Linked DNA regions of Homo sapiens. The protein of the gene in region 1 purifies or fractionates together with the protein of each later gene. This does not show direct contact. Each region holds a gene or a part of one and is shown on either strand. Other genes may lie near its edges. The genes, in order: URI1, POLR3B, MYH9, UTP4, POLR3E, POLR2B and PPP1CB.

Region 1 (4,054 bases):
TGCTGGGATTACAGGCATGAGCCACCACACCCGGCCGAAAGAAGAGATTTAATAAAGCTTTTGAGTGAATAGATACTGGCTGTGAAGTTGAAATCATGAACATGAAATTTGATCAGATGCTTTAGTCCTCATCAGAAAACCTTAGGCTGAAAAATGCATCATCAGCTCTTCAATTATTCATAATAATGTGATTAAGGTAAGAGAGAATCAACTGGGGGTAGAAGAAATTAAGTAGAGATAATACAAAAGGCGTTTCAATTTGGCCTAGGAGTCTGTTTCTTGTTACATCAAACAGAGCTACCAAATAAGTAATTTCAAACAACCAAAAGGTATATGTAACTCTGTAGGGGCAGAGATGATCGTATTTCCATGCTATGGGCCTTACTCAGCTCTTAACACCTGCTGGAAATGAACAGCCCTTCTTTTTGAGTAATACCAGGCAGCAGCCTATGCCAAGATGCCCGTCAAACTTTCTCTGGAGACTGGGTTTCCAAAGGGTTCCCTGCTAAGATACAGGCTGCAAGCAAAACTACAGCACTGAATTTTTTTTAAGCAGAAGGATGTTGTCAGTTTTTAAAAATAACAGAAACAAAAATTCACCAACTCAGCAAGTAATTTAAAAGAACATGTAGACATTGTCAAATTGAAATCAGGATAAACTGCAATGTAGGTAACAACTCTCCAGATAATATAAATGACAAACATCACAGAATTGGTTTCAGCTTACTGCTTAGTTCCCTGAAGCAACAGTAGCATAATTAATAAAAAAAAATTAGCTCAGTCTTAAGATCTTAAGGAATTTCACATATATATTATTTTACATAACCTATAATAAATGTCACTTATCAGTATTTTTCTCTTACAGAAGACAAAGTAGAAGGAAGATGGAAAAACCACATAGCAAGAAGCCAGATCTCCTCTATCAAGATGAGGTAAGCAATGAGTTTAACCTAGCTAGGTCTTCTGACCTGCATTCCTTCATGAAAGCTTTCTCATTTTCTAGTGTGCAACTGCTTTATAACTTTCCCCAAAAAAAATCCTTTTCTATAAATAAATACGAAACATGTTTTATTCTTTTGTTTAAGGCAAAAATCCTCCTCCTGGAAAATTTTTATATGGATAAAATGGCAAAAAAACTTCATGCACAAGGCTATGTACCAGAAAGAACATGGCTTTGAAGTCAGACCAGAGAGTGAATCCCAAGCTCTACATGCAATTTACACAAATTCACCTTAGTCTTAGTAACTTCAATGGCAAAATTGGACTAATACTTATCTCACAGGTTCAACAGAATTAAATATAAAAGGTCTAACACACTGCCCAGCATGGAGCAACTACTATTTTGGTTCCAAAACTCAAAACTCATTTTTTTCATGAAGCATCAAAAAACATCAATTCCAAAACTTTCAAGAAAGACTATTACCTACAAGATTTCACTAACCAATTTGATACAAATAGTATAACTTGCTGAAAGACAGTACAGCTGAATGTAACCATTCAGGGGCTTTGGAAACAGGACTGGTGTGAGCAATCAATGGGAGAATGTCTCCATAGGACTGACTGGTACAGTGCCTAGACAGTCAACACTCACTATTAATAACATAACACTAACAGCTTATTTATGTTTCAGATAAGTAATTCTGCAAATGCTCAAGGACTAAATACACCAGCCTAGATATCTAAATATTTCTATGAATATTAAGAAGCTAGTATTAAAGTCACCATTCAATAAGTCTTATTTTGGTAACAATGCTTAGGAGAAAAAAAAACAACTTCCTCACAAAAAACATCTATTTTGTACATTAAAAGAACAGTACGTTCAAAAACAGGCAATACCAGAGATCAATGTCAATATTTCAAGTCAAATATAATCAGTTTTCAACTTATTAATAATTCTCTCTGGAATAAAAATGCGGACATACTGGAGAGCAGTTTAAGATTAGAGTTGCTATTTATAAATTTTGAATTATTTTCTAAAAATACAAAAGTAGAAGATCACTTAAAATGCAGCCCATGTAGAAATCCTTTATGAAGGGAGGCCAGGAGGAGTCAAGCAATGTCTCTGGAAGAAACTACAGCTTGAGGAACCCTCTCTCTCTAAAGGCTACATTCGTGGAAATGTTCAGGGCTTAGTCAAACAGTGATCTCCAAATAGTATCTCTATTATTTCAGGCTTAAATAATCCTGTTAAAGATCACAAAGCCTATGCAACAGAAAATGCAAAAGTTATGCTAAGAACTAATGCATTACTGAGGTTAAGTCTGGGGTCTTTATTTATAACAAAATTTGAACAGATTTTTTTTTCTATTTTAATAATTAGAAACGTAATTAATTTTTGGACACAGGAGTCATTACAGTAATCAAAAATGGTAATTGCTTAAAATAATTTTTCTTCAAATGGAAAACAAAACCCAGATAGAGTTAAGAAACACCTCTCCAGCCTACTTACTTAGAATAGCTAGACCTGCTTCTTTGGCTTCAACATAATGGATCCTTATAGATCAGGTTCCGCCTTCAACTCTTAATTTTAAATTTTTTTCCAATATCCTCATGCAACATTCCTTATACAAAACAAGAACTAAAAGCATAGGTATAAGGCATGTAAGAAACTTTAACCACTTCCTTCTGAATCTTGCTAATCATGTGCAATATGCCTTTTGAGAGTACCTTTTGTTTTAAGGAAATTAAAAAAAAAAAATAGGCAGCAGCGATGAAGACCATTAACACAACCACAAGTTAGCCCTTACCCTTAAAGGATTAAGATCAAGACAGAACCTATGGGAAACAGCTCATTTGCATAAAATTGTAGAAAGTAAGAGAGAAATCAAGTTAAATGAGGGATATGCTCAAGTATTTAGGGGTGAAATACACAGATGTCCACAACTTAATTTGAAATTCATCAGAAAAAAATGGATTAACGGATTAGGGTACAGACAGATAGGTGATCAAGATTCACTCTTCCATATGTTTGAAATTTGTCATAATAGAATATTTTTAAAGGGACGAGGAAATATGAAAGGGATCAACATTTTTAATCCTCTTAAAAGTGACTGACAAAAATAAAAATCTCTATTAAAAAAAAAAAGTCTACATCCTTTGAGGCCAGTGATAAAGACTCCAACCTTTAAATAATAAAAAAGGGAGATAAAATTTAAATCAGGTTGAAACAATAAGACTTTGCTAATTTTACTTTAAAGTAAGAAGTTAAAATAGACAGCAAATACTAACATTGAACTTTTTTTTTTTTTTTTTTTTTTGGAGATGGAGTCTCACTCTTTCACCCAGCCTGGAGTGCCGTGGCGTGATCTCGGCTCACTGCAACCTCCACCTCCCAGGTTCAAGCGATTCTCCTGCCTCAGCCTCCTGAGTAGCTGAGATTATAGGCACGCGCCACCGCACCCGGCTAATTTTTGTATTTTTAGTAGAGACGGGGTTTCACCATGTTGGTCAGGCTGGTCTCGAACCCTGACCTTGTGATCTACCCGCTTCGGCCTCCCAGAGTGCTGGGATTACAGGTGTGAGCCACCATGCCTGGCCCAGTTTTTTTTTTTTTTTTTTTTTTTTTTTAAGAAAAAAAATCTTCTATCACTCTCTTTTCCTCTACCTAACATCCTAAACAGACAAGCAGAAAATACTGTGAGATGCCTAACGGGGAAAGAGGAAAAAAATTTCTATATAAGTGTTAACATCTGAGTTAACCTGGGACAGAGTTAAATTTTTATTTTTTAATTTAAGAAACGATAAAAACGGAAGATTCTGGAATATATACAATATATAACCTTCTTTAGAAATAATTTTTAGTCCATCATACCCACCCTACAACTTCCCATTAAGCATCCAAAAAAGACTTGTTTCAATTGAATCCACCATTTACTGAGCAGCTCCTCTACAACAAGCCTATGGCATATGCTGCAGGGATCATCACTCACACATAGCATGCCTTTCTGATTGTTTGTTGATTGTTTTGCAATGCATCTTTGTCAAAGATCCACTAGCTTGAAGGATGCCTGGCTTTTCACCTCTAAAATCAAGAAAATAGAGGAATATTAAGTTT
Region 2 (4,054 bases), on another chromosome or scaffold:
AACTAGGCAAAGATGCACAGGCCTGCAGTCCCAACAACTCAGGAGGCTGCGGTAGGAGGACTGCTTGAACCTAGGTTGAGGCTGCAGTGAGCTATGGTCATGCCACTGCACTCCAGCCTGTGCAACAGAGTGAGACTCACACACCCACACACACACACACACATCATAGTCTATATAAAATTAAGAAAATAATTCAGAGTACTACATGAACATGAGAAACATCATCTCAGTAAATAGCAATTTTATATATCTCTTAGGGTGTTAAGTTTTGGTCACTTATTTTTATTTATAGTTATTTCAACCAGTAATAAGCCACCACCAATTTAACTTGGGCAACAAGGAAATCAAAATATTTCTTTGGTTATGCTGTTATTCCCATTTTTGCTTTGTATCTCTTCCTGGTAAGTTCAAAGACCAACTACCTGTAGTACTGTCACAGCGCGTATTTTCCAAGCCATACTGACCAGTGTTAGGGTGAGAAAAATTCTCCAAGAAACAAAGGCAGAGGGAGGGAGGAGAAGTCGCGTACTCTGTGTCTCTTTGGAACCACAGCTTGATAAAGCATTCACCGCCCACAGGCCAACCATGACAAAGTCATGTGGATTTCCCTCCTCACAAACTGGGTTCTCTCCACCTTCACCACAGCTCCTGGTACCAGGTCTACCTTCTATTTTAGTGCCCTTCTAATCCTTTTTCTACACTGTAGTCAGAATGATCATTCAAAACACATATCTGAATATATCATTGCTTTTAGGATCATAATGAAAATAGTATCATGGGCTCGGCATGGTGGCTCAAGCACTTTGGGAAGCCGAGGTGGGTGGAGAACTTGAGCCCAGGAGTTCAAGACAAGCCTGGACAAGATGGTAAGACCTCATCTCTACAAAAAATACAAAAAACTATCCAGGCATGGTGGCACGTGCCTATGGGTCCCAGCTATACAGGAGGTTGAAGTGGGAGAATCACTTGAGTCTGGGAGGCAGAGGTTGCAGTGAGCTGAGATTGTGCCACTGCACTCCAGCCTCAGTGACAGACTGAGACCCTGTCTCAAAAATAAAATTAATAAAATAAAATAAAGACAATACTAACATGGTTGCAAGGACTTGCTTACTCTGGCCCCTACCCCTTGCGTCACCCACCAACTCATGTGCACCATGCTTCCCTGCACTCTCTTCTTGTTAGCCACGCTGGTCTTCTTTCAGACCTTTCAACTACCAAGCTCTGGGACCCTTGCACAAGCTTTTCTCATTACTTAGAACATGCTCCCTGATCCTCTTCTTTAGTTAACTCTTCCCTATCCTTCAGATTCCAGCTCACTTCCTCGGGAAAGCCATGCTGATCTTCCCAACAAGGTCAAATTCTCTTGCTATAAAATGGCCTCATAGTTACCTATATGATTCCTTAACCTGGATTTATGCATGATCCTCTGATCAATGTCAGTCTCCTGCACTAGCCTGTGAGACCCATAAGGGCAAGGGCTATTTGTTTCATCAACAAAATGCATTACAAGTTTGTAATTATAATGGAGTCATACCTTTGCAGGGGGATAAAATTCTAAAGTAGTCTGTAAGCTAAATGTGTAAATGAAGAAATACCAGTGCAGATGCAGGGACATAAACTACTCTAAATATTTCCTTAAAGTGGCTTTTCTATTATTCAAAATTATAACTAGAAAATTATAGTTAGCATAGATTACTGATAGGTAAAAACATAGTGTATAGAAAAACAGACTGGAAGGAAATTCATCAAAAATGACCTCATTGGTTGAGTTTGGATGGTGGTTTTATAGGTTGTTACTTTTTTCTGCCCTTTTTGCCAAATATTCAGAAATATTATTGAATAACATATGATGTCAAAAAGTATTAAAATTTTTTCTTTTAAAAGGCTTTTACCTGGAGAACAAATACCATCTGCATCTAAGATTTCATGTCGCCAGATAGGTTTCCTTGTAGCAGCATCCAACATGGGCCCCATCACTTTATCAAAAGTCTGATTGGTGTATCGTTTCAACGTACATTTAGCATTTTTATATACAAGGCAACGCCCAAAGCCTAAAATGAAACCAAGATGGGCATTAGAACCACCAGTAACCCAAAGCTATAAGGAAATATGGATTTGTGCTACTCAACAATCCACTCCACCTCACCCTCCCCCAAATCCCAAAACTTCTCTGTATTTGATAATAATCTGGGACCAGTACAAACCAAATAAAAATCTGATAATCTGAAGAAGCAGCACAGGACTTGTCCCCTACCTACTGTCTGTGTAAACACTGGAATCTCTACAACCATTTTCTGCATGGAATACACCTTGTCATACTGGAGAACGGTGAGAGAAATCTAAGACTGGCGCTGTGATTCTTTCAGAGGACAGAGCCATAGAATATTAGAATTGGAAAGGCCCTTAGAAATCACCTGCTTAACCTATCTGTTTTACAGGCACTAGGAGTGAGGTCTAGAGAAATTAAGTGGCCAAGGTCATCCAAAAAGTTGGCAGCAGAGTTGAGAATTGTGTTGAACAGCACAAGTCCACTGACTCCTGAGCCAGGATACACATCCTTTTGGTGCATAACTTCTGCTAAACTTCCCTGGAAAGTTTTCCTTTTTAAAATTTGGCATTTAGAGCAAGTTCTAAGCCAACAAGTAAAAACAATAATTTTTCTCCAGAGAAGAGACAGAATGAAAAAAGAAATAATCAAATTATTTCAATGGGAAAAATAGTTCTCCTCTGCCCTAAAGATTGGAGTTTAATTACATTTTTAGATTGCATTTATCTAGTGGATGAGGGAAAGGCTGTGAAATCAACTAACAATCTAAACATCAAGAAAAATAAGCTGTCTAGCAATGGATCAGAAAAGAAAAGGAAGAAAAATAAGCAAAAAGGACAGAAGAAAAACCTTTGGGTGGGGCAAAAAAACTCAACCACTGAATCCCTAAAAGAAAAAATCCATGAGTTGTAGAGTTACCCAAAACAGCTGTCATTCCTTCAACACTATAATTTCCTGATTCTGTGGCTGCATTTCTTTCTTTTTTCCCTTTGGCCAAGCAGTTATTTTAAACTGGATTCTCTTACTAATCTCCTCAGGATATACTGAGCCATGCCAGAGTTCACTTAAATAAGAAATGTCTCAGGATTAAATGCCGCTTATTACTGATGAAATAAATGCATGGCAGTAAAATCCTTCACTTAACAATTTTCCACCAAAAACAGAAATCTAAGAATGTGACTTTAGAAATCAATCAGGTAAAAGTGGATTTATAAATAAAATCTCAGGGCTGTAATGTAATTTTTTAAATATGAAGGTGACTGTGAGATGAAGTAACGAATTTCTAAAATTGGACGTCAGATGAAGACATTTGTGTCTTTAAGCAAGGCCGTAGTCATCATGGCTCCTAGGAAATTGTGTATGGCCATAATAAACTCGGCTCAGAATGCCAGCTGGTTTGGAAACATTACATGATCTTGAAATTTCATACAGTAGCCATTAACTGCAACATGCTGGAGTGCAATGTGAATCTTAACTGCATGAAATCAAGAAGTGTTTTCTTCAAAGTGTAAACAGACATTTTATTTACAGGTGATAGCTTAAAAGCTAGGGGATAGTAAACTCAGATCACTGAATTGGGTTGCAGAGTTTCTGACAGACATCACAAAGTCTTCAGATTTCCACATAAACGTTACCAGTTAATCAGAAAGGAAAACATCTAGTTTTAAAGCATGGCTGTTGTCATTTGGAGGAAAAAAAGAGGCATAAATTAAGTGTGGCCAACATTAATGCCAAAGACACATGTCTAGGAGTACTATTATGGCTGCCTAGCAACTACAAAGAGGGAAGGGGAAGGCATAGTGGGTACGCCAGGAAGGAAAAAGAGAAATCGAGATTATGAATAGAGAAGTCAGACTTCAGATCAGGTGATGTCTAACAAACCACGAGGTGGTGACTTGTGAAAGTATTGTCAAAAACAGAAAGAAAAGCAGAAAAACTCCACGCCAGAGTTTGTGGCCGTGTATTTTTAACTTTCGTCACTTGGCCAAAGAAGTTACCAAATTATGA
Region 3 (4,054 bases), on another chromosome or scaffold:
AAAAAACCCAAACTATAATTAAATAATTATAATAATGTAATGATATAATGATAATTAAAGTGATTTTAACTCAGTGCTCAATGGAGCCCAGGCTGGAGTGCAGTGGCGTGATCTCGGCTTGCTACAGCCTCCACCTCCCAGCCGCCTGCCTTGGCCTCCCAAAATGCCAAGATTGCAGCCTCTTCCCGGCCGCCACCCCATCTGGGAAGTGAGGAGCGTCTCTGCCTGGCCGCCCATCGTCTGGGATGTGAGGAGCCCCTCTGCCTGGCTGCCCAGTCTGGAAGGTGAGGGGTGTCTCTGCCCGGCCGCCATCCCATCTAGGAGGTGAGGAGCGCCTCTTCCCGGCCGCCATCACATCTAGGAAGTGAGGAGCGTCTCTGCCCGGCCGCCCATCGTCTGAGATGTGGGGAGCGCCTCTGCCCCGCCGCCCCGTCTGGGATGTGAGGAGTGCCTCTGCCCAGTGGCGACCCCGTCTGGGAGGTGAGGAGCATCTCTGCCCGGCCGCCCCGTCTGAGAAGTGAGGAGACCCTCTGCCTGGCAACCGCCCCGTCTGAGAGGTGAGGAGCCCCTCCGCCCTGCAGCCGCCCCGTCTGAGAGGTGAGGAGCCCCTCCGCCCGGCGGCCACCCCGTCTGGGAAGTGAGGAGCGTCTCCGCCCGGCAGCCACCCCATCCGGGAGGGAGGTGGGGGGGTCAGCCCCCCGCCAGGCCAGCCGCCCCGTCCGGGAGGTGAGGGGCGCCTCTGCCCGGCCGCCCCTACTGGTTAGTGAGGAGCCCCTCTGCCAGGCCACCACCCCGTCTGGGAGGTGTACCCAACAGCTCATTGATAGCGGGCCATGATGACAATGGCGGTTTTGTGGAATAGAAAGGGGGGAAAGGTGGGGAAAAGATTGAGAAATCGGATGGTTGCCGTGTCTGTGTAGAAAGAAGTATACATGGGAGACTTTTCATTTTGTTGTGTACAAGAAAAATTCTTCTGCCTTGGGATCTTGTTGATCTGTGACCTTACCCCCAACCCTGTGCTCTCTGAAACATGTGCTGTGTCCACTCAGGGTTAAATGGATTAAGGGCGGTGCAAGATGTGCTTTGTTAAACAGATGCTTGAAGGCAGCATGCTCTTAAGAGTCATCACCACTCCCTAATCTCAAGTACCCAGGGACACAAACACTGCGGAAGGCCAAAGGGTCCTCTGCCTAGGAAAACCGGAGACCTTTGTTCACTTGTTTATCTGCTGACCTTCCCTCCACTATTGTCCTATGACCCTGCCAAATCCCCCTCTGCGAGAAACACCCAAGAATGATCAATAAAAAAATTAAAAAAAAAAAAAAAAAAAAAAAGACAGTCAAACCAGTTCATTAGAGAAAATCTGAAAAATGTAAAAAATCAGAAAGGAAAAGTCACTCCTCAACCCATCGCATGAAGACGCCCTCTTCCGCTGGCCTTCTCCCTGGGACCCTCAACAAGCCAGAGCCTGAGGGTCCTCTAAGCACTGGCCCCGCACGGCCCCTCCCCGGCGAGACCCTGAGGGAGCCCAGGCTTTCTCTGATGGGCCCTTTGCTTTGGACTCAGTGCTTGAAGGAGAGGAAATGCAAAGGATGGGGCCAACGGCCACACACCTGGTCAAACTTCTTCTGCTTCTTCTCCAGGTTGCACGCGCTCTGGCGCTGGTGGTCCAGGTCCACCAGCAGGTCGTCCAGCTCCTGCTGCAGCCGCGTCTTGGTCTTCTCCAGCTTGTCGTAGGCGGCCACCTTCTCCTCGTGCCGCTGGCTCAGGCCCTCCAGGTCCTTCTGGAGCTTCCTCTTCACCTCCTCAGCAGTTTCCAGGCACCCCACACTGTCCTCCATCTTCTTTTTCATGTCGGCCACCTGGGCAGGAGCAAGGAGTAAGCAGATGCCCGAGATGGCACCTGCTCAGGTGGCACACCCGTCCCTGGGGCAGCTGGGAGCCTGCCTGCCACACCGTGGAAGGGGCACCAGGGATCTGCCCAGTTATGAAACCGCCTCCCCCAGTCACTTCCCTCTCCACAGGGGCGAGACAAATGGAGCTTCTGCAAAGGGGCATCTGTCTACTGTGTGAAGCCCGGGGGAGGCTGACCCCCAGGCCCGCTGTGGGGGCTCCCAGCCCACATCCACACCAAGCCTCTTGCTCTACGGAGACTGCTCCCAGAGAGCAGGGCCAGTGCCCTGTAGGGTGTCCACGGGGTCCCCATCACCCAGCCCCATCCTTGCACTTGGAGATAAACCCACAATCAGGCACGCTCGCGGGCTACTCCTACCCTGACTGTGGAATGGACTCCCAGCCCATCCCGAGGTGGTTCAGGCCTTCTGGCCTGGCACATGGAGGCCCAAGATAGGATCTAGAGCAGGGGCTCTGAAACCATATTAGGCTACGGACCCCTTCGCAGTCTAGAGAGGCCAAGGGACTCCTTCTCATGACAATGTTGTAACAGGCATGAAATAAACATGGGATCAGCAGGGCAACCAGTACAGAAAAATGCAGTTGTCACACATTCTAAAAAACCATGGCTCAGGAAGCCACGTGCTGCTAGATAGCACATCAGATAACAAACAGCGCAGGCCTGGGACCCATGAGGCCAAGGAGCTCGGCCACAACCCTGACAGGGTAACTGGCCATTTCTACAGATGATGACGGCACAGGGACTGCCACCACCATGGCTTGCTGCCTACATCCATAATGGAAGCAATGCTGAATTTCAGCTAAAGACTGGTGAAAATAAAGGTGTAAAATAGTGAAAATAGTGGTGTCCCCCATCTAAGTCCACAGATCCCTGGATTCCTTTCCTTGAGAGCACTGATGTGGGAGAGCACGGTTGGCTTCCCAGGGGGAGAGCAGCAATGGGCCGGCCCAGCGGGCAGGGCTGTCCTGCAGTGCCCAGGCCAGTGCCCGGCCAGCAGCTCCCCAGCCTGCAGAGTCCGGCCGGTCCCCCAGGCCTCCAAACCTGGGCATGGAGGGTGGCGATCTGCTTCTCCAGGTTGTGCTTGGCCTCCTCCTCCTCCTCCAGCTGCTCCCGGAAGGAATTCTTCTCGTCCTCCACCTGCTTGAGCTTGGTGCTCAGGCTCAGCTTCTGCCGGTTCTCCTCCTGCAGCAGCTCCTACTCGCGGGTTGAGAGGGGTGCGGGTGCTTAGGAGGGTGGTGTCCAAAACCCAGGAACCCCACACCCTTGAGGAGAGGGAGGAGCTGGTCCTGCTGATTTAGGGGATGGCCACGTAAAGACCTGGAGGGAGCTGGGAGGACGCAGAGACCCACCCACAGGATGAAGCAGATGAAGGAGAGGATGGGCAATCCGATGGGCTCTGAAGCTAATGTTGCGTGGACACAGAGGCCTTTCTGGAGGGGTCCACCTTCTGGGAACCTGGCGCCACCCCTACCTGAGTGTCCTGCAGCTGGGACTCCAGCGCGGAGAAGTCCTTGGTGAGCTTGCTGGACTTGCTGTCGGACTGGCTGAGAAGCCCGGTCACGTTGTCCAGCTCCACCTGCACCGGGCGGGGAGACACAAAGGACCATGGACCCACCCCCACTGCTCCTGCCCCACCTCATCTCCTTTAGGTAAAGCTGGACCTGAGTCACAAGCTGAACCATGAGGGTCTGAGGAGCCAGTTTGAGAAGAGAGAGAGACAGAGAGCACACATGCACCTGGGGACCTGGGCCACAACTGCTGCTAGGGCCCACTGCCCGCGCCAGGGTCCTGGCGGAGGCCTCACCTGCAGCTTGGTGACCTTGTCGGCCAGCTCTGTGCGCACGCGCTCTCCCTCGTTGAACTTGACCTGCAGCTCCTGCAGCTGCGCCTCCACTTTCTTGCGCTTGTGCTCCGAGTCCCCTTTGCCCTGCAGCAGCACCTTCACCTCGTTGGCCAGCTCCCCCCGCTCGTTCTCCAGAGTCTGCTTTGCCTTCTCGAGGTTTGCTTTCACCTAGCAGGGAAGAAAGCAAAGACGTGAGTGGGGGCCTCCTGACACAAGGCTGGCTGGTCTATCATCACTGGACCCTAGATCCAGACATCGCTGCTTCTGCAGCCCTGACGACGGTGTGCCTGCGTCCT
Region 4 (4,054 bases), on another chromosome or scaffold:
TGTTGGCCAGGCTGGTCTTGAACTCCTGACCTCAGGTGATCCACCTGCCTTGGCCTCCCAAAGTGCTGGGATTACAGGCATGAGCCACTGTGCCCGGCCTCGGCTAATTTTTTTATTTTTTATTTTTTTTAATAGAGGCAAGATCTCACTATCTTGCCCAGGCCAGTCTCAAACTCCTGGTCTCAAGCAATCCTCGCACCTCAGCCTCTCGATTGCTGGCATTACAGGCATGAGCCACTGCTCCAGGCCCATTGATCTGTTTTAAAGCACCTTTGTTCATCACTCCATGCTTCAAAGCCTCTGGTTATCCCTGTTGGCTTCAGCATAAAGACAGTTTCCTTAGTGTGTCTTATAGAACCTGTCTCCATCCAGGCCTGGCCCTTCAGCTTCTTTTTGCACCTCTCGTGCTTGTAGCACCCCCACCCAGGCTAGCCATTCTCAAGGTCTTTTTGTTCCCTCAAATACTCTTACCTTTGAGCTATGTCACATGCCATCACCCTCCTCAGAATGTTCTGCCCTGCCTCCTTCGCCTGACTGGTCTTTCCCAGTGAACCTCATCTGGGCTTCTGTATTTACCACCACACAGCTAGGTTAGATGTCCTGTCTCCTTATTTTTCAGTACATACTGTGTTTAGCCGTGTTAAAATTCTTGGCACACTGAAGTCTAATTGCTGATTTAATTCTGTGTCACCCCTTTAGAAGCATGTTGAGAGCAGTAGCTATGTTTTAATTCATCATCGTCTTCATAGATCTCAGGGCAGTGCCTGGCATATGGGAGTACTTAGGAAATATTTATCAAGGAAATGGATTTCAGCAGTAAAAAATGTGCTAAGGTGGTGCTACTGTATCTGGTACTAAGGCAGTAGATGACCCTGACTTATTTTTTTAACTTCTTGATTCTTGGATATAGCGATGTCTCATCTCCTGTTCTAAAAAGAGGCAGCTTCTCCTCTTCCAGTTTGCTCATCACTTAGAACTTTGGCGACTGGGATCCACAGTTGCAACAGGTAAGATGGGAGCACGTTTTTTTCAATAAGAAAACTGGAGAGAGAAGCCAGAAATCAGAATTGCGGTTGGAATTCTGCTTATAGAAAAACTGAAGTAGACTTTTGTGTCCATTTTAACTAATGGTTTTCCCACCCATTAGATAAAGCAAATAAGCTGTTTAGAGTATTAGAATCTTTAGCAGGATATTGGATCATCTCTTAAAAGTTTATGGCTCTAGGTGGTGCGCTGCAGGGTGTAGTCAAGGTAAGGGTTGAAGAATCGTAGTTTGCGCTAGCTTAACTGAGGTGAAAACAGGCTGTTGAAAAACAACAAGATTTAATGATGGGTAATGATAATCCTGTAGAAAAAGAAGATCACATGGATCTTATTGGAGTGACAGCCTAGTGGCCTTTTTGACTTATTAAGGAAATGTTTGAGTCCTCTCATTTGCAGTGGATTAAAATCGAGGCCACACAAACTCCACCTGTGTCCCTGGCTATGGACTAGAGCTTCAGGGAATTAGTGATGTATCAGAGGATAGAAGCAAAAGAAGTACTCACTGCTTTCTCTTCATATACCCCTCAAAAATTGTGAGCTTACTCAGTGAGCTTGTATTTTTCTGATTTCCCACTGATAGAGATTCCATTTTTCCAAGGAGTAACTTTTTAGAAGAAAAATGTACAAATACTCTTTCTTTCATAAGAAAAATCTCAGGGAAGTTTCTTGTTTCAGGCAAGAATGGGGATACTCTTCCACTCTCTAAAAATGCAGATCATTTACTGCACCTAAAGACAAAGGTAAGGAAGTTTGTTTAGGCTCTGAATTCTAGAGCCTGAATTCTAGGCTCATAATTCCCATTCTGAATTTTGAGGTTACTTAGTTTGCATCATAAATTGTATAAATTCTAAAACTATTTGAATGAAGGACTGTGTCACCAGGACTGGGTTTCCTGTGATTATAAGTAGGACGTTGAGGATTTATTAGATGGATGTATACAGGAAATAGGTTTCTCTTCTTTTGATATTATTATGAAAATAATGTGCTTTTATTTATTTATTTATTTATTTATTTATTTATTTATTTTTGAGACGGAGTTTCACTCTTGTTGCCCAAGCTGGAGTGCAATGGCACCACCTCAGCTCACCGAAACCTCCGCCTCCTGGGTTCAAGCGATTCTCCTGCTTTAGCCCCCCAAGTAGCTGGGATTACATGCATGCGCCACCACGCCCGGCTAATTTTTTGTATTTTTAGTAGAGATGGGGTTGGTCAGGCTGGTCTTGAACTCCCGACCTCAGGTGATCCGCCCGCCTTGGCCTCCCAAAGTGCTGGGATTATAGGCGTGAGCCACCGCGCCCAGCCATGTGCATATTTTTAAAAACTCAAATAGTACAAAAGGGTATACAATGAAAAAAAAATCATTTTGTGAGTTTTTAAAAACTACATACATGTTACATTCAACTTTTCTTTATTCTCCAGATTCTTTTTTGTTTGGTTAGTTGGTTGGTTTTTTTGTTTGTTTGCTTACTTTTTTGAGGCAGGGTCTCATTGTGTTATCCAGGCTGGAGAGCAGTGGCACGGTCACGGCTCACTGCAGCCTCAACCTCCCAGGCTCAGGTGATCCTACCACTTCACCCTCCCAGGTAGCTGGGACTACAGGTGTGCACCACCATGCCCGGCTAATTTTTTGTAGAGTCAGGGTTTCACCATGTTGTCCAGACAGGTCTTGAACTCCTGGGCTCAAGCAATCCTCCACCTCAGCCTCCCAAAGTGCTGGGATTACAGGCATGACCCACTGTACCTGGCCTTCAAATGTTCTTCATTTGCTATTTCTTAGAAGTCTTTAAAGCAGAACGCCGTACACAAAACAGAAAATAAGTACTTCAAACCACCTATCCTCCAGAGCTTTCCTTCAGTAAATGCCTCCCTGCTCAGGTTTCTGAAGTTGGGGTCTAGTATGAGGCTATCTATGAAGTATTCAAAGGGCCAAAATAAGAATAGACCTCCATTCTTGGATTTGGAAATCAAAGCCATGCCTTTTAGGTGCTCTGCCTCTGAAATAATCATATTAATGCAGACCACACGAGGATCGAGATTATGTGTAGATATCTGTGGGTATGTCCAGAGTGGCAAGAGCTTGAGGCGTCATGTCCCAGTGCACCTTGTTATGTGAAGTTTAATTGCACATTCATCTTGATTCCTGATATTGCCAGGGTCCTGAGAACATTATCTGTAGCTGTATCTCCCCATGTGGAAGTTGGATAGCCTATTCTACAGTTTCTCGGTTTTTTCTCTATCGGCTGAATTATGAACATGACAACATAAGCCTCAAAAGGGTAAGTGATAGTCCAATATCTGGTCACATAAGAGGAAACTTCCTAAATATGTCATTTTTGTGTGAAGTGGAAATCAACTGGATGTGAATCCTTGCTCAGTTAAAAACTATTTGGAGATTTGGAGAAGGCTGTTATGAAACAGTGTTTTATTTCTTTCTTTCTTTTTTTTTTTTTTTTTGAGACGGAGTTTTGCTCTTGTCACCCAGGCTGTAGTGCAATGGCACAGTCTTGGCCCACTGCAACCTCCGCCTCTTGGGTTCAAGCGATTCCTGTGCTTCAGTCTCCCGAGTACCTGGGATTACAAGCACCCACCACCACACCTGGCTGATTTTTGTATTTTTAGTAGAGATGGAGTTTCACCACCCGTTGGCCATGCTGGTCCTGAACTCCTGACCTCAAGTGATTCACCCGCCTCAGCCTCCCAAAGTGCTGGGTGCTGGCATTACAGGCGTGAGCCACCGCACCCAGCCTTTTTTTTTTTTTTGACCGAGTTTCACTCTTGTCACCCAGGCTGGAGTGCAATGGCACCACCTCAGCTCACCGCAATCTCTGCCTCTCGGGTTCAAGCCATTCTCCTGCCTCAGCCTCCCGAGTAGCTGGGATTACAGGTGCCCACCACCAGGCCTGGCTACTTTTTGTATTTTTAGTAGAGATGGGGTTTCACCACGTTGGCCAGGCTGTCCTGAACTCCTGACCTCAGGTGATCCACCCCCTCAGCCTCCCAAAGTGCTGGG
Region 5 (4,054 bases), on another chromosome or scaffold:
TTTCTGTGGTACACCAAGGTGCTGTAATCTCTAGAGGTTCCTTAACTCTTGTGAAGGTATTTTTGTGTGTGGACAGTTGTTTAAATTCATGTTTCTGCAGGGGGATGAGTGCTGGAAAGTCCTATTCTGACATCCCAAGTTCCCTCAATTTTTTTTAAAACAATAGTTCCCTCCTATATTCCTTGTTTCTTTTTCTTGCTATTTGAGTTTGGTGTTTTAACCAGTTCTTTTTATCAATGTAAAGTATTTAAGGCTCTGACTTCTCCACTGAGCCAATTAAGTTCTGCAAGGTGATGGGACTAACATTCTGTGCCGTCCCACATGAGCATTTCCCCTTTCAAAGTGAGAAGGAAGTAGGATGGAAAAGCTGAGACATATTCCAAATCGCTTTTGGTAACTTTACTTTTCAGGTTCACATATGTTAACAGAATCAATACACGATCAACTTGTTAAGTGATGTTACCAAATACTTATTTGGCAAAGTACATCCTTGATCAATGCCTTAGTGATTCTATAGCTAAAATATTAGATGTTTTATTTTGGGGGGAGTGGGGAAATAGCATAGACCGTCATTTAAACCTTCAGACAATTAGTGACTGTGTTGTACAAAAAAGATGGCGAAAGCCTTATCTAGATACCAAAATTCACATGTCATCCAACCTAGCTTACTCTTATTTTTTCCATCAGTTTCTAGGGCTGTGCTATCCAATACTGTCGCAAATAGCCCCATGTGGCATCGGAGCACTTATGATGTGGCTAGTCCAAACTGAGTGTTGAGGAAAGTGTAAAATGCCAGATTTTGAAGACTTTTACCTTATGTTGATGTTTTAGATATTTTGAGCTAAATAATATGCTAACATGACCTTTTTAAACTAATGTGGTTGCTAGAAACTTTCAAAATTATGTACGTGACTCGCCTCTTTCTAGTGGACAGTGCTGCTCTGTCTTCCTCCATTAGCTCCGTTCCCTCTAGATACACGTAACGCTGAGCCCAACAAGATCGCCTTCCTGTAACCATTTGAAGATAGCACCATGATGCTAGTTTAGTGTTTGCATTTATTTTAAAAATACACAAAATAGAAATTTTTACATCAAAGTGTGATAACCTCACTTACACATTGTTCCATACTTACCTGGTTTTGTTTGCATCTTTCTGCAAACATTAAAAGGAGATGGATTTGATTCTGATTTTTTTGCTATGGTTCATGTAAACAGTTGAGACTGCTACATAAAGTAGGTTGTTGTCAAAGGTGAAGTGGCCACAGAATCCCAAGAATAGAATAATTCAATTTGGTTTAATGAAATTGGTGGAGGTCTTAGCAGATAGATAATCCAAGACTAAATATTGTCTTCTAGGCATTTTAAAAATTAAGAACTTTGAGGTTTTCTTCATGTTGTAAACATAACTTAGACCTTGTTGGCATTAAGTTTACAAAAGAAAATATTAAACCATGATTTTTATCATCCTGCCCATGTCAGTATACACTCTCTTTATTATGAGAATGAAACCAAATAATAAGCAAAATACATCAGGAATTTCAAATTGTACTGCAAAGAAGGTCCCAGCTGGTCTCTTCTGGGAGTGATCTAACTAACTTAAGCTGACCCTGCGACTGGCTGAGGATAATCCCTTCTGTCCACTGCACCGTGCAATGCCACAGGTCATGAGATGGTCAGTTCCTCTTGCTCTGTGTCGTCTGAAGCAAGTCGAGGCCCTACTTCTGGTTCCGCCCTTCTTCCTTGGGCTTAGATTTGCTGGGTTAGTAGTTTGCTACTATTGTCAAGACTGTACTGTCCCTTTAAGGTACCACATGCCACCATAGCTTACACAGCAGTCCTATGAGAGAGAAACAGGGTAAGCACAGATTTTTGCAGGAAAAGGAGCTAATTACATTCTGTCCACAATGTCAACACTCGATTTATGATTAGTGAATAGAATACAAATGGGAAATCAAAAACTGCCTAACCATACCACCATGGCTACTACCAGCCACCCTTTCCTCAGGGGTAGTGTTTTTTTTTTTTTTTGAAACAGAGTTTTGCTCTTGTTACCCAGGCTGGAGTGCAACGGCATGATCTTGGCTCACTGCAGCCTCTGCCTCCCAGGTTCAAGCGATTCTCCTGCCTCAGCCTCCCAAGTAGCTGGGATTACAGGCATGTACCACTACGCCTGGCTAATTTTGTATTTTTAGTAGAGATGGGGTTTCTCCATGTTGGTCAGGCTGGTCTCAAACTCCTGACCTCAAGTGACCCACCCACCTCAGCCTCCCAAAGCGCTGGGATTACAGGTGTGAGCCACCGCGCCTGGCCATTCCTCAGGGGCATTTTAAAAGTGAGGGTGGGCCAGGCATGGTGGCTCACACCTGTAATCCCAGCTACTTAGGAGGCTGAGGCAGGAGAATTGCTTGAAACTGGGAGGTAGAGGTTGCGGTGAGCCGAGATTGTGCTACTGCACTCTAGCCTGGGCAACAAGAGCAAAACTCCATCTCAAAAAAAAAAAAAAAAAAAAAAAAGGGGGTCTACGAAATACAGATACTGACATGCCCAGAACAAGGGTGCTTAAAAAACAGTATTACTTATATGGCTCTGGATGTTTAATCAAAACAAGACATTGTCATCAGTTTTCTGTCTCTCAGTGTTGCTGCAAATATGGTTGGTATTTGTACTACAGTCACTTCAGAAAAGCATTATAGGTTGTACATTAGGTGCTTTCATATAGTAAACAGATCATATTCCTTTTTAAACTAAATTTAAGAATGGATTCTACTGAAAGTCATGTGTGTGGCTATGGCAACAATCAGAAGATAGTTCAAAATTCAAGGGAGAGTAGAGTGAGGATTCTCAACTAGGCCCTATCATTTTAGAAGACGCCTACCCACTGCCAAGCTCATCCAACCTACCATATTTTTTTGTTGTTCTATTGTTTTAGGCTCTTAGCAGCCTGAAGCCATGGTTTTTAGTTTCTGTCTCTAGTGACAAGCAGAGAAGAGGGATGAAAGGGGCATTACTGGCCTGGCCCAACCAGAAAGAGAAACAAAGCATCCATGGCTGTATTCTTTCCCTTGGACACCACTGTGACTATATTGTTTGAAGGGGTCAGTCCTCTGGCACATACCCCCTTCCCCAACCAATGCCAATCAATCAATCATTAACAGTTGCTCAAGACAAGACTGACTGGGGAGTGGTCCCAAGGAAGCCTGATTTCATATACACAAAGACACTAGAGTCCCTTCTACACACTGTCAGCCCCTTCCAGAGCCTTTGATATTGTTTGTTATGCACAAAATGGATGTACCTTTAGTACTTTATCCACCTCCTGTTTACTGAGATCTTCTCCACACTCTTGAGTCAACCGAGACTGGATCATGTTTCGGCGTACCCGGTAATTTTTGGAAAAAATTTCAAGCAAAACCTGTCGATGCTTTAGTAGCAAAAACACGTTATGATGGGAAACAGTGATCTAAAAAGAGAAACATCCCCAAACAAGACACCCAAGCCATGCACCTGACTTTGTGTTGCAGTCTCTGATAAAAACCCTCACGCAGCACCTCTGGTTAAAGATGAGCCAAGTCATCTCTAGAGACCCAGCAAGACAGTGTACAGAAATAAAAACACAAAAGTAAAGGCATTAATGCTATGTCTGGAAACTTGAATATAAATAAAAACAAAGGTATATGCCAGCATAACAAAAGAACTGGTGAAGAGACATGAGAGGATGAGTGGCTTGAACATATTTCTGCATGGTAAAATGCAGGCGTGCATCGGACTTAGCAAGCAGGTGAAGCGACAATCTAAGCTGCACGGAGATGAGAAGAGGGTGTCAAAATTGGTGTGAAGTCTTAATGCACAAACATGCCACTGCATCCATGAAACAGGATGCCGTAAAATACGTTACACCCCAAAATAAAAATGGAAAAGATTGGATTCAGTATGTCTAATATCTGTCATAAGAATTCTGAAAAAAACAAAAAAAAGTAACAACTCACAGGATTTTATAAGAACTCAATTGTCTAGTACAATAATGACCCGCACCAGGGCACAGCTGAAATGGCAC
Region 6 (4,054 bases), on another chromosome or scaffold:
ATAAAGATCACACATCAAGACTATCTACAAAAATTTATTATATATTTACAGAAGAAAAGCATGCATATCATTAAACAAATAAAATACTTTTTATCACAACACAGTACATATTTGTCATTTTTAAAAAGCCACACAATAGAAACAAGACACCAAGATATTTAATTATCTTGTTGACTCCTGTAAAATAGCTAAACACTCATCATTCGCGGTGCAATACTCATAGACATAAGTTCCTGAAACAATAGTTTGCATGCGTAAGGCATTCGCACCAAAGAAATCTGAAAAGAAAAAACAAATGGTAATTAGCAGAATTGTATTGAAGTGACCCCACTTCTCTACCCCAGAAAAAGACAAAGATCTGGTACTGTAGATAATGAATAAATGAGTGGAGCTGAGAACACACATTCTGCTACCTCAGCTTATGGTGGTTCTTTCTCCTAGTAGGCTTTGGTATTTTACCCATTCTGCCAGACATAATTTATATTCACCCACCTCAACTAAAAGGTTTTCAAAAACTCATTGTTTAAAATCCCTTGTACAAAGTCTTATTATTTCCAAAAGATGAATAGCTTAGAGAAATTACCACACTAAAACCTAAACTGGTTTTTAGAAAAATCAAATTATCTTTTCCTTATTTAGAACTCGGAATCTCACAGAAGCATGCTATCAAAATTGTGAAAATGCCAATCTGTTCTGCCACACTAATTCTGCCTGGATAATCAGACCAACACAGTTTCCTCTAAACAAATATCAACTGCCAGTAAAGTCTATACACACCTGGGTTTTATTGCGGCAGCCCCTGCATTCATATGTATGGGTCCTGGTGTTGGCAATCGCCATTATTCCACAAAGATTGCAAACATGAACCTGATATGGATCTGATGCCTCAAACAATCTTTCCCTTAAAAACTGGGCTGCTCCATGGGCAATCTGACAATCTCGTTCCATTTCTCCAAAACGCAGGCCACCATCACTGTTAAGAGAAAAAAATTATTACTTTGTACTTATTTTTTATTATAAACACCGCCTTGAATAATGGCAAAGGTGGAGAATAATATTTGCAAAGACGGATAACTAGGCTCTAATTTTTATACCCTAGCATTCTCTCTATTGGTGGGGAGAGGAGAAGTCTACCAACTATTTGACGTGCATTAGAAAGTCCCCAAATGGGCTAAGCAAAGTGGCTCACCCCTGTAATCCCAGCACTTTGGGAAGTGGACTGGGTGGATCTCTTGAGCTCAGGAGCCTGGGCAACATGGCGAGACCCCATCTCTATTTTTTAACAAATAAAAATAAAAACAGAAGGTCCCCAAATGGAGTGGATACATTAGATTCTTAAGTAGAGCATTTAATTTTCCTCATAAGACACAATAAAGCATAGAGTGGAGGTTCATCATGCTATCATTTAACTTTCTAGAATTCAACTCTATACTAAAAAAATGAATAATGAAAAAGACAATCTAAATAAGGCAGCTTGTCAATGGAATGACTGTCCCAGGCAATCAACCTTGAAATCATAAATACATGTTGGCTGAAGTAATGGAAAGAACAGGTAAATGATAATAGGTTTCCCCAACATAAGAAGTGAAATAAATGCATTATTCAGATGGCCAGGCAAATAGATGGTGATGGCTTCCTTAACATACTTAATATCCAAAATATACAAAATAAAACCAATGGGTTTATAATGATATTCCACCAAAACAAAAAAATCATTGGTCGACTTTGGACCACTGATCTGGATCATTAGACAACCAGCTCACTATTTTGAAAACTGGTAAATAAAAAAAGAGAATCAAGCATTTATTCCTGCCCTTACTATAAGAACTACATCACTAGGTAACCAAACAGTTGAGGAAACAAAGTTTTAGAAGTAGTCTGGCTAAAAACTGAAGAAGGACTGAGAAAAAATAGAATGGTATCAGTTGGAAATCGCCATTTAATTAAGGTCTTTAGTAATAGCTGCTAAAATCATAAAAAGAAAGGCAACCAGATACTGGAAGTATAGAATACCACCTATAAAGTATTACTGCCAAAAAACTCAAACGCTAAATCTCAAGCCTCAAGATCTATTTACAAAAAACAAAAAACAAACAAACAAACAAAAAACAGCAATGCACAGCATTTGGGATGCAAGCAGCAAAATTCAGTCTCAAGCCCTGGACAAACAGTCCAGGTTGTTCAACAAACAAATTACAAGGGGAAAAAAAAGGTTGGAAGGCAACCAATAAATTCAAAAAAGGACTTATGAGACACTATCAATCAATTGCAAAGCATGGACCTTATCTGTATACTGATTAAAACCAACAAACCTTTAAAAAACTTATGTGATAATCAGGGAAATGTAAATCTGGATATTTAATACTAAGGAGGTACTGTGGTTAGGTTTAGTGTCCTAATCTTTTAGAGCAGAGGTTCTCAGAGTGTGGTTCATGGACCGCCTGAGAGTCAAAGCTATTTTTAATAGTAATACTAACAACATATATTTGCTTCTTTCACTGTGTTTACATTTGCACTGATGGTGGAAACATGAATAAAACTGCTGACACCTTAGCAGAACTCAGGGTAGCAGAACCAAACATTACTAGCAGTCATATTCTCCATTCAAGTGAAGGGGAGAAAAGCCAGTTTTACTTAAAAATGTCCTTAATGAAGCAGTGAAAATAAATAGTTTTATTAAACCTTAACCCTTGAGTATACATCTCTTTCATATCCTGTGACTTTTAAAAAAATGAAAGTCCTCAACCAGGCACGATGACTCACACCTATAATCCCAGCACTTTGGGAGGCCAAGGTGAGAGGCTGGATTGAGCCCAGGAGTTCAAGACCAGCCAGAGCAACACAGTAAGACCCAGTCTCTATATAAAAAATAAAGTAAAATAAAATGGAACACTTCATAAGCACTTCTACTGCATAGTGAAGATGACTGTCTTGAACAAAAGCACTTGCATGATTCTGAACTAGTCCCTTTTAACATGGAGTATCTTTTTTACTCAAATAGCCAGCTGACACCAACTATGTTAACTCATCAACATGTTAACACCCATGATGTTAATTCAGACTTAGAATTAAGTTGACGATGTTGTAGATATTTGGCAGACAAAGAAATGAACAAAAAGAAATGAAAGCAAACGAAAAAAGTAAGTCTTTGAGGAAAATAATTTTAAGTATTTGTTGAAAATGATGAAAATTGTGAGCTTCAAGCAAAAATCAGAATTTTAGGAAACTTCTATGCACCACTATGGGCTTGATAGCTTCCTGATATATTTAAAGGCTTTTCTAATGACATCAGTAGTCATATTAACAAATGCAATTTTTTTATTATAATGAAGTGTGTTAACATTTGAAAATCTACGTAACTCAGCAAACCAATATTTTCCAAATGACCAATTAGGATGCTACAAAATATGCATGTGTAAAAGATACATCTGAAGTACAAGACAAACCAATGAACTTCAAACATAAATACAGAAGGTTCATTCATATGGTTTCAGTTTCTACATCAAAACCAACCTTTGAGAAACTACAACTTACCGTTTTGGTGTAGTATCAAAAAAATATCCACAGGCCAGGCGCCTTGGCTCATGCCTGTAATCCCAGCACTTTGGGAGGCCAAGGCAGACAGGTGGATCACTTAAGCTCAGGAGTTTGAGACCAGCTGGGAAACATGGCAAAACCCTGTCTCTACTAAAAAATATAAAAAATTAGCTGGGCTTGGTGGTGCATGCCTGTAGTCCCAGCTACTTGAGGCTGAGATGGGAGGATCACCTGAGCCTGGAAAGTAGAGGCTGCAGTGAGCTGTGATTGTGCCACCACACTCCAGCCTAGGCAACAGGGATGAAACTGTCTCAAAAAAAGGGAAGGGGTGGGCTGGGCGTGGTGGCTCTTGCCTGTAATCCCAGCAATTTGGAAGGCCAAGGCAGGCGGATCACTTGAGGCCAACCATTTGAGACCAGCCTGGGCAAAATGGTGAAACCCTGGCTCTACAAAAAATACAAAAATTAGCTGGGCTTGGTGGCGCACACCTGTAATCCCAGCTACTTGGGAGGCCGAG
Region 7 (4,054 bases), on another chromosome or scaffold:
CTGCACTGAGCCACAATCAAATTCTTCAATGGTCTCAAAAATACTTTTTTAAAGTGTGGTTTGCTCTTATCAAAATCGCCATTATGCACAAAGATTATATAAAAATGAGGCTGGGCACAGTGGTTCACGCTCACGCCTGTCATCTCAGCACTTTGGGAGGCTGAGGCGCAGATCACTTGAGCTCAGGAGTTCAAGGGCAGCCTGGCCAACATGGTGAAACCCTGTCTCTACTAAAAATACAAAAATGAGCCAGGCGTGGTGGTGCGTGCCTGTAATCCCAGCTGCTCCGGAGGCTGAGGCAGAAGAATCGCTTGAGCCTGGGAGGCGGAGGTTACAGTGAGCAGAGATTGTGCCACTGCACTCCAGCCTGGGTGACAGAGTGAGACTCCATCTCAAAAAAAAAAAAAAAAAAAAAAATCTAAATCATATCTACAAAGCTTCAAAGAAGCACTGAAAATTTTGTTAGGTTTGCTGTATACTACAAAAATACATTCTTTTTTTTGAGACTGGGTCTAGCTCTTTCACAAGGGCTGGAGAGCAGTGACATAAACATGGCTCACTGCAGCCTTGATCTCCTAGGCTCAAGCGATCCTCCCACCTCAGCCTCCCACGTAGCTGGGACCACAGGCACGCACCACCACACCCAGCTAAATTTTTGATTTTTTTTGTAGAGATGGAATCTCATTTTGTTGCCCAGGCTGGTCTCAAACTCCTGTACTTAAGCAATCCACCCATCTCAGCTTGCCAAAGTGCTGGGATTATAGATGTGAGCCACCATGCCCAGCCCCAAAATATTTCTAAACATTTCCTCTTTTAGGGTGATAAAAGGTTAACAAATCACTAGATTGTTAAGTGTGAGATCCAGGAACTGGCTCTGCCACCTCTCCTACTGCTTTCCTTGTACAACTCATTTAGCTTTCTTGGATATGTTTCCTCAAAACAAAATGAGAGGGCTTATGTGAAGTTAACAAATAATAAATGTTTAAGAGTCCAGGTGTGGTGGCACACGGCTATCGTCCCAGCTACTTGGGAGGCTGAGGCACAAGAACTGCCTGAACCCGGGAGGCACAGGTTGCAGTGAGCAGAGATTGCGCCATTGCACTCCAGCCTGGGTGACAGAACAAGAATCTGTCTGCCCCTCCGTCTGCCCCCAAAAAAAAGAAAGAAAAAAGAAAAAGCTTAAGAGTTTTATATTTCATACCTGATGAGCTCGACAAATCAAATCTAAATCATGACGATTCAGAAATTTACTGACTACATCAGCTCCAAAAGTAAAGGAAACACCACGATCATTTTCTCCCCAGCCTTGCACATCCTTATCTGGATCAGACCATAGCAAATCACAGAGCAAACCTTTAAAGGACAGAAATACAGCAATTAAGAACAAAATTTACAGATTTATAGAATATAGCACATCTACATCAAATTTCAGTTCCTTTCTTGCCCTCTTACCTTTTACTAAACAATGACCATCACTTGCCTAAGTATTCCAGCCTATGTAACTTATACTTTTGTTAAAGCAACCATACAAACCATACAAATATAATCTTCCATGGCCTCTTAAGGTAGTACTTTCCAACCCTTTCCACATATAGGAAATATGTGCATGGCACTTACAGCACAACAATACATGGAAAAGGCTGTTCATCTTTTGGGTAGTTTCTCCATATGAATAACCAAACAACCCAGTGGTATTTCCTCAACAGTTCATCCTTTCCTTACGGTTCCACTGTTTCTGAGCACCACAGTCTATTCTGTTAGTCTATTTTACTTATCCCTGAGCCAATAACAGACTAGAGCTTTTTAATAAGTCTTTATATTTGGTAGGGCTAGTATCCTCCATTTTTTTTTCAGGATTGTCTTGGTTACTTTTTGATCTTTTGTTCTTCCACATAAACATTAAAAACAATTGCCTAATTCCATAAAAAACTCAATTGTGATTTCACTGGAATTGTATTTGATCTACAGATCACTTGAGCGAAAAAAAAACATTTTCTACTGAGACCCTGAGGATTTTTTTTTAAATGTGGAAGAACAAAATCAGATCAGATCCTTGACTTTGGTAATGTTTGGAGCCCTGGAAAAGAGGTCAGGGTTAAAAATATTTACTTGAGTATTGTCATCATATTAATGGTAGTGGAAATCTTAAGAGGGACTCAGACCACCTTAGGAATACAAAGTGAGAAGACCAGCAAATGAATTCTGAGGAATTCAAACATTTAATAGGCAGGTAGATGAGGGAGAATGAACATTAGGTATTGAGAAGGAATGATCAAGACAAAGGGCTTAGTATAGTAAACGTATCCCGAAAGGGGAAACAATCGTCCTAAAGTAGGAAATGTGCCATGAACAAGGGCAGTAGGACGAAGACCAAAAATGTGCCACTTACAATTAAATCATCAGACCTCAATGCAAGTTTCTTGGTGATTGAGGGTAACGGAGTGGGTAAAAGTCCAACTGTAGTGATATTAAAAGAAGGGTGGATGTTGAGATGGTGATGGTGATTTTCTAAGAATTGCAGTGGCTAAGAGAAGATACATATATATTTTTTTGAGACGGAGTCTCGCTCTGTTGCCCAGGCTGGGATGCAGTGGTGCAATCTCTGCTCACTGCAAACTCTGCCTCCCGGGTTCACGCCATTCTCCTGCCTCAGCCTCCCGAGTAGCTGGGACTACAGGTGCCCGCTACCACGCCCGGCTAATTTTTTGTATTTTTAGTAGAGATGGGGTTTCACTGTGTTAGCCAGGATGGTCTCGATCTCCTAACCTCGTGATCCGCCCGCTTCGGCCTCCCAGAGTGCTGGGATTACAAGTGTGAGCCACCGCGCCCAGCCAAGAAGATAATTTTTAAAGAGTTAAGTCAGTTTTAAGAATTTTAAATAATCCATAAACATCATAGTATGGTTTAGGAGGAAAGGGCATCTTCATTTTCAGTTACAGTACATCATATCTTGATAGAGGCATTATAAAACCATTTGTAGAATTAGTGGCAATGTATTCAATCTCTATCATTGATATATCCCAAGCTCCCTGTATGTTGTTTTAAGAAATTCACTAGCACACAAAATCCACTGGAATAGTCAGTCTCAATTCTTAAGCCCTTTCTGGTTGAAGCTGACTCTTCGAAAATATACACCCACCCAGTGCTTAATAATGCTTTCATACTTTCCAGCCTCTTTCCAGTAGAAAGCTAAGGTATTAAGAATCTATAATTTCTTTTTTTTTTTTTTTTTTTTTGAGACGGAGTCTCGCTCTGTTACCCAGGCTGGAGTGCAGTGGCACGATCTCGGCTCACTGCAAGCTCCACCTCCCGGGTTCATGCCATTCTCCTGCCTCAGCCTCCCGAGTAGCTGGGACTACAGGCGCCCACTGCCACACCCAGCGAATTTTTAGTAGAGATGGGGTTTCACCGTGTTAGCCAGGATGGTCTCGATCTCAAGAATCTATAATTTCAGTGAGACAATAAAACTGTATAAAATTAGAATAGAGTTTGAGGTTTAGGAAACATGACACTCTGGATGCATTAAAAAAATCAAATAATGGTAGCAACAACAATCTGGAATTCTTTAACCTTAACAGGGTCTAGATAAGAATTTCAGGCCAGGTATGGTGGCTCACGCCTGTAATCCCAGCACTTTGGGAGGCCGAGGTGGGCGGATCACCAGAGGTCAGGAGTTCAAGACCAGCCTGGCCAACATGGTGAAACCCTGTCTCTATTAAACATACAAAAATTAGCTGGGCACAGTGGCAGGAACCTGTTATTCTAGCTACTTGGGAGGCTGAAGCAAGAGAACTGCTTGAACCTGGGAGGTGGAGGTTGCAGTGAGCCGAGATCAGGCCATTGCACTCCAGCCTGGGCGACAAGAGTGAAATTCTGTCTCAAAAAGAATTTCAGAGTCAAGATTTATTGTTTAATGAGCTAGCATCACAATCAACTAGGCTGCTTCAAATAATGTATTAACTTATAAATTAAATTTCTGAATGTTGCAGACACTATCAAAGATCAAAATAACTGTTTTCAGCATCTTGAAAACTTCTCATTAAAATACGCTAAA

The links.
Region 2: the proteins of URI1 (region 1) and POLR3B purify together in Homo sapiens (affinity purification with mass spectrometry; 4 studies listed by BioGRID and IntAct, with this or other methods). This does not show direct contact.
Region 3: the proteins of URI1 (region 1) and MYH9 purify together in Homo sapiens (co-immunoprecipitation; one study listed by IntAct). This does not show direct contact.
Region 4: the proteins of URI1 (region 1) and UTP4 purify together in Homo sapiens (co-immunoprecipitation; one large-scale study listed by IntAct). This does not show direct contact.
Region 5: the proteins of URI1 (region 1) and POLR3E purify together in Homo sapiens (affinity purification with mass spectrometry; 4 studies listed by BioGRID and IntAct, with this or other methods). This does not show direct contact.
Region 6: the proteins of URI1 (region 1) and POLR2B purify together in Homo sapiens (affinity purification with mass spectrometry; 3 studies listed by BioGRID and IntAct, with this or other methods). This does not show direct contact.
Region 7: the proteins of URI1 (region 1) and PPP1CB purify together in Homo sapiens (affinity purification with mass spectrometry; 3 studies listed by BioGRID and IntAct, with this or other methods). This does not show direct contact.

Annotation. Positions count from the first base shown.
Region 1 is NC_000019.10:29,980,126-29,984,179, reverse strand, and holds part of URI1 (unconventional prefoldin RPB5 interactor 1), read right to left. Parts: intron 4,022-4,054; exon of another isoform or gene 3,930-4,021; intron 1-3,929. UniProt on the Homo sapiens protein: Involved in gene transcription regulation. Acts as a transcriptional repressor in concert with the corepressor UXT to regulate androgen receptor (AR) transcription.
Region 2 is NC_000012.12:106,455,135-106,459,188, reverse strand, and holds part of POLR3B (DNA-directed RNA polymerase III subunit RPC2), read right to left. Parts: intron 2,052-4,054; coding exon 1,893-2,051; intron 1-1,892. UniProt on the Homo sapiens protein: Catalytic core component of RNA polymerase III (Pol III), a DNA-dependent RNA polymerase which synthesizes small non-coding RNAs using the four ribonucleoside triphosphates as substrates.
Region 3 is NC_000022.11:36,290,373-36,294,426, forward strand, and holds part of MYH9 (myosin-9), read right to left. Parts: intron 3,927-4,054; coding exon 3,720-3,926; intron 3,492-3,719; coding exon 3,387-3,491; intron 3,110-3,386; coding exon 2,957-3,109; intron 1,863-2,956; coding exon 1,614-1,862; intron 1-1,613. UniProt on the Homo sapiens protein: Cellular myosin that appears to play a role in cytokinesis, cell shape, and specialized functions such as secretion and capping. Required for cortical actin clearance prior to oocyte exocytosis. Promotes cell motility in conjunction with S100A4.
Region 4 is NC_000016.10:69,152,674-69,156,727, forward strand, and holds part of UTP4 (U3 small nucleolar RNA-associated protein 4 homolog), read left to right. Parts: intron 1-910; coding exon 911-1,007; intron 1,008-1,719; coding exon 1,720-1,784; intron 1,785-3,197; coding exon 3,198-3,320; intron 3,321-4,054. UniProt on the Homo sapiens protein: Ribosome biogenesis factor. Involved in nucleolar processing of pre-18S ribosomal RNA. Part of the small subunit (SSU) processome, first precursor of the small eukaryotic ribosomal subunit.
Region 5 is NC_000016.10:22,331,427-22,335,480, reverse strand, and holds the end of POLR3E (DNA-directed RNA polymerase III subunit RPC5), read right to left. Parts: intron 3,422-4,054; coding exon 3,296-3,421; intron 1,838-3,295; coding exon 1,781-1,837; 3' UTR 385-1,780; downstream 1-384. UniProt on the Homo sapiens protein: DNA-dependent RNA polymerase catalyzes the transcription of DNA into RNA using the four ribonucleoside triphosphates as substrates.
Region 6 is NC_000004.12:57,027,123-57,031,176, reverse strand, and holds the end of POLR2B (DNA-directed RNA polymerase II subunit RPB2), read right to left. Parts: intron 974-4,054; coding exon 778-973; intron 405-777; exon of another isoform or gene 279-404; coding exon 189-278; 3' UTR 19-188; downstream 1-18. UniProt on the Homo sapiens protein: Catalytic core component of RNA polymerase II (Pol II), a DNA-dependent RNA polymerase which synthesizes mRNA precursors and many functional non-coding RNAs using the four ribonucleoside triphosphates as substrates.
Region 7 is NC_000002.12:28,785,957-28,790,010, reverse strand, and holds part of PPP1CB (serine/threonine-protein phosphatase PP1-beta catalytic subunit), read right to left. Parts: intron 1,354-4,054; coding exon 1,202-1,353; intron 1-1,201. UniProt on the Homo sapiens protein: Protein phosphatase that associates with over 200 regulatory proteins to form highly specific holoenzymes which dephosphorylate hundreds of biological targets.